Linked DNA regions of Homo sapiens: region 1 is linked to region 2. A link means that fine-mapping ties the variant in region 2 to the expression of a gene that starts in the linked region. Tissue or cell type: whole blood. Region 2 holds a variant in brackets; the other region holds the start of a gene. All regions are shown on one strand. Distances are from middle to middle.

The links. PIP is the estimated chance that this variant, and not a neighbour inherited with it, causes the effect.
Region 1: it holds the start of KIF27, and the variant in region 2 is fine-mapped to the expression of KIF27 in whole blood (TOPMed, PIP above 0.99).

The regions. Positions count from the first base shown.
Region 1 is chr9:83,919,983-83,922,730 of GRCh38, forward strand. KIF27 (kinesin family member 27) reads right to left here and starts at 1,450. Exons shown (of 18, transcript NM_017576.4): 1 at 1,389-1,450. It overlaps LOC105376335 (serine/arginine repetitive matrix protein 1-like), which reads left to right and starts at 919. Exons shown (of 3, transcript XM_011519284.2): 1 at 919-1,279; 2 at 1,372-1,716. The coding sequence starts at 919. RefSeq lists enhancers at 982-1,731, 2,346-2,748 and silencers at 1,053-1,432, 1,463-1,612.
Region 2 is chr9:83,888,041-83,890,540 of GRCh38, forward strand. It overlaps KIF27 (kinesin family member 27), which reads right to left. Exons shown (of 18, transcript NM_017576.4): 7 at 1,044-1,213; 8 at 449-552. Among named protein-coding and RNA genes, the nearest start is that of KIF27, 32 kb to the right of the region's middle. The variant A/G (reference allele first, on the strand shown) is at 1,529.

The DNA of each region.
Region 1 (2,748 bases), 32 kb after region 2:
GCACTTTGGGAGGCCAAGGCAGGTGGATCGCTTCAGCCCACGAGTTCCAGACCAGCCTGGGCAACATGGTGAAACCCTGTCTCTACTAAAAATACAAGAATGTGCCAGGCTGTGGTGACGCACCTGTAGTCCCAGCTACTTGGGAGGCTGAGATTGGAGGATCGCTTGAGCCCGGGAGGTTGAGGCTGCAGTGTGCCACTGCACTCCAGCCTGAGTAACAGAGCGAGACCCTGTCTCAAAACAAAACAAACAAACAATAGTAATGGTCCACAAACATAGGGCTTGTAAAACATCAATATACAAGAAATAAAGTTTTTACACAATCCATAGCACTTATACTTCAGATTCTGATCAATTATAGTCATCAGAAACATACGTATTATGTTGCCAATAAATGATTTAAAAAAAAGCAAAATCTGATTGGTCGTATTTAAGTATACTCAACGGGTTTTTGAAATCTGAGCAAAGGCAAGAGAAATATTGAATCCCTCATGTCATGTCACTGGTCAGGAATGAGTGTCTCCAAAAACCGTTGCCATCCCGTACCCTTGATTTCCCAGAAAGCAGTGGTTGTCTTAAATGTGTGGTTTGTTAATTATTTTCATAAAAAACTTGCCAGTAGATGGACAGTAAATCGCATACGGAGCTCAGAAAAGGCCCCAAATGCGTAAAGACGACAAAAGAGTAAAGAAGGGCAAACAACAAGGATTTTCAACACTGGAGACTTAAAAGGTGTTACTTAAAAGGTGTTTCAAAGAAAGAATCTGGGCGCTTTGCTCTTTATAGTCACCTGCCTCCGAGGGAGGGAGCTCTCGGGCTTGAATGTGCCCAAGGTTCAACCTCTACGGTAGGAAATGCGCCCAAGTTTCAACCTCTACGGTGGGAAATGCGCCCAAGTTTCAACCTCTACGGTGGGAAATGCGCCCAAGTTTCAACCTCTACGGTGGGAAAAAGACGCCTGCGATAAAACAAAGCGCTCGGTGGTGGTGGCCCTCGCGTCGCACCTCACGCCGTGCAGCGACACGAGACGAACACAGGGTGCGCTCTGAAAGGCCGGGTCCCGCGTTCCGGTCGATCGGTGTTCCCCGGGACCCGCTCCTCAGGGCTGACCCAACTTCCTCCGGAAGGGGCGCTCTGCCTCTAGTCGCTCGCCGGCTCCCAGCCCCGACCCCAGACCCCTCGGACGCCCCCATAGGCCTAGCTGGCGCCCCAACCGCCCACCCTCCGCTACCCACCCGCGGCGGCCCCGACCCCAAGCCGGAGCCTACTAGTCCCAACGGCCGGCTGGGGGCGCGGGAGCGGCGGGCGCGGCGGGCTGGAGGGCGGGCACCGCGAAGGGAGGGCGCCCCACTTCCCCGCACCGCCCGCCAGGCCCGCCGAGCACTGACCGGCTCGGGACAGCCCAGGCCCCTGTCGGCGAGCGCTGGACTCCTCAGCTTCGCTCTGCCACACCGCGCAGCCGCCGTCCGCGTCTTTTGTTGTCGCGAGTTCTCCTGGCAACCGGCGAAGCCCGCCTCCCGCCGCGTCCTCTCCTGGATGCCGCGTCCTGGCCCCGCCCCCATCCTGGCCACGCCTCCAAGCCCGCCGCGCAGGAGTCCTGCGTCCCCAGGAAGTCCGCAAAGGGCCGGCCCCTGGGCTTGCCTGCAAATCCGAGTTGTGTCCCACCAACGCGCTGGGACCGGTCTGTGAGGCCTGAGCGCAAGCATCTTTCTACGGGTTCGTGAAATGAGTGAGAACGATTCCACACCGTGTTTCAATATCTTAGCTACCAATTCAGTTTATTTTTATTTTTATTGAGTAAAACTTGCCTAACATAAACCATCTTAAAACTCACAATTCAGTGGCGTTTAATGCATTCACAGTGTTGTGCAACCATCACCTCTGTATATAGTTCAGAAACATTTTCATAACCCCAAAAGAAAATCCCCAAACCAGTTAGCAGTCATTCCTTCTGGTTCCCCTCTCCCCACAACCCCAGCCAGCCACTAATCTACTTTCTGACTCTGTGATAGCTTTACCTATTCTGGGCATTTCTTTATTGATGGAATCATTCAGTATATGACCTTTTGTGTCTAGCTTCTTTTGCTTAATGTTTTCAAGATGCAGTCATGTTGTAACATCTATCAGGACTTCTTTTCTTTTTTTTCTTTTCTTTTTTTTGAGACCGAGTCGCGCTCTGTCGCCCAAGCTGGAGTGCAGTGGCGTGATCTCGGCTCTCTGCAACCTCCACCTCCCGGGTTCAAGCGATTCTCCTGCCTTAGCCTCCCGAGTAGCTGGGATTACAGGCGCGTGCCACCACGCCCGGCTAATTTTTTGTATTTTTAGTAGAGACGGGGTTTGTTTCACTGTGTTAGCCAGGATGGTCTTGATCTCCTGACCTCGTGATCTGCCCGCCTCGGCCTTCCAAAGTGCTGGGATTACAGGCGTGAGCCACCACGCCCGGCCCTTTAGATGGAGTTTCGCTCTTATTGCCCAGGCTGGAATGCAATGGCGCCATCTAGGCTCAACGCAACCTCCACCTCATGGGTTCAAGCGATTCTCCTGCCTCAGCCTCCGGAGTAGCTGGGATTACAGGCATGAGCCACCCTGCCCGGCCCTATCAGGACTTTTTAGGGCTGAAAAAATTCCATTGTATGGATATAGACATACCACATTTTGTTTATCCATTCTTCAGCTGGTGGTGGACATTTGGGCTGTTTCCATGCTGCTATGGACATTCACATACAATATTTGGATGTCTGTTTTCAG
Region 2 (2,500 bases):
TGATGCATAAAAATTCTTAGCAGTTGTGTACTAAAACATTACCAACACCCAGTACACTAATTGGGCTCTAATGCCAAATACATCATTGATGTTAGGCACAAGTCCCAGTGAAGGAGTAGACACCTAGTACAATTATTTATACTGTATTTTAACATCATCAGGAATACAAAGCATATCAATTCAGGTCTGAATATAAAAATCCTTATTCTGAGGGAGTTAGCCTATATCTCTCGCTATAATTAATTGATAGAAAATCTTTTTTTATTAAGGAGTAAAAGAGTAAAAGAGGTAAAACAGAGAACATAAAAGAAGTTCTACCAACTAGGAAAGCATTTGTACCAAATTCTGGTCTTTGAGAATTCCTGGATGTTTCTTAAATTATCAACTGAGGAAAAAGATAAGTGTCCTATAACCATTAGGTCTACATTATTTAAGAAGATCTATGTACCTTCATTCTCCAAATCTGACTTTTGTGTTTCATCCTGAGTATCACTCAATTCAACAAGGGAACAAACAGAGTCTGGCTTCTGAATCCATGAACGACTTCTACATCTTAAAAAAAAATCAGAAAGTTAACTTATTTGTTCGTGTTTTCTAATCTGCCCTCAAATTAGTTTCCCCGAAAAGTGAAAGTAATGTTAAAAAAATTATTAGTTACATATAAAAACAGAATGTTACTAATATTGCTCAAAATAAAAGGATGCCCCCCCCATCCATGTTGAATCCAGTAGAAAAGTCATGTTTGTTGCCAACGTGGCAGCAGAATAAGGAAATCCAAAAAAAAAAAAAAAAAAAAACCTCTGAAAATTAGAATCTCATTACTATAAAAGCTCTAAAAGCAAAATTATTTTTCAGTTATAAGACTGATGACTTGTGTTCAAATACTATTTTCATAACACATTAGATGATAGTACTTTTAGCAAAAGTTACCTACTCTTCTATTAAACATAAAAGATATACTCCAATGGAAAAAACCTACACTTCTATATTTATTGCAGCATATAATTCTAAATATTTATTAAATCAGTGTATATTTAACATACCTAGTTCCAGATTTCTCTTGGCCTTCTGATTCTTCATCATCACTGTTATCAGAAAATTGGCAGTGGAGGACCTTATCTTGTTCTTCTATGTGACCCAACAGCATCTGACTTCGTGTTCGAAATCCAGCAAATATTCGATCCAGAGAGTACATAGGCGGACTTGTGTGGACCTTGCAAGTGATTCCCCCACCCAACAACAAAAAAAGTGATATTTTAAAAGTCTAATTTTATCCTATTACTCTAAGTGCTTTTAAAGGGGTTATTAGATTGGCACTCTTAAAATAGCCAATCACTGGAAAATGCTCCCCTCAAACAAAGGTCAAAATTAATTTAACAATACTGTTGTGCCTCACAGACAAATACTTCTTTCAGAATCCACACAGCTCCTTCTCTTCTGGACAACTCTTCTATCTTCACTTACAGAAAACAGTATTCAAAAATGAAACCAAAAGAACGCATGGAAAACATCCTAGCTCTTAAACACA[A/G]CACAGACACACCCCAACAAATGTACCCTCTTCCCCATCTTCCCAGTTCAGAACACCTGGAGAACTGTGGTGCTGCCGCCAAAGGTCTGCATCCCCTCCAATCCAAATCCTACCACAGGAAGAAACCCAGAGCCGTCTCCACTCCCTCTGCCAGGGCAATATTCCTAATCTGAATACCACAATGTATATACTTATTCTTTATACATGGTAGTTAGGTATAGCTGAATTAAGGCTCTAGGAAAAATATTTAATATATGTCATAGGACAAATAAAATCGTATGGCTAGCCTGGGAGTTTTCTATAGTACAACATTCTTCTATTGGAAATGCACTTTAAATTCTCAAAAAAAAATGACCTTGGAAAACAACAACAATAAATTAGAAATTGCCTTTATACCTTTGTTCTGGTTTCTATTACAAAATATTTCCTCTGCACCATCTCTGTAACCAAATCTCAAGATGACTTCTCTCAAAAGGCAATAAAATCTTAGAGGAGACAGTCCATTTATCAATATAAATTATTATAAGCTGTTAAAATTATAACATATAGTGGAATATGAGTATCACACAGTGTTTAGGATTTAATCACTTGACAATAGGCCCCCGTCATGTATTCTCTCCTAAAAAATCCTACCTGATTCTGAAAATCATCTTATATCTGATTTTTGTGCTTCTGCTGTCAGTCACCTAATTAGATCATCTGTCACATCAGCATCATGATAGATGGGCGTAAAGTTTTTTAGGTGGCCTCCCAATGGGGTATGAGGGAGGGGAATTCTTTAAGAAGAACCAACTCAAGAAGTACTGATCTAACAAATACAACGTACTAGACATGGCTATTTTATCCCATAACTGGCAGGCATCTAGTTTTCTTTTGTGAGAGTTTGGGAATTATTTAAGGAGCAAATAATAAAATCTTTGTTCAGAGTCCAACTTCATTCTCTGGGATTGTAATTTCCTTTTAAAATTTCTT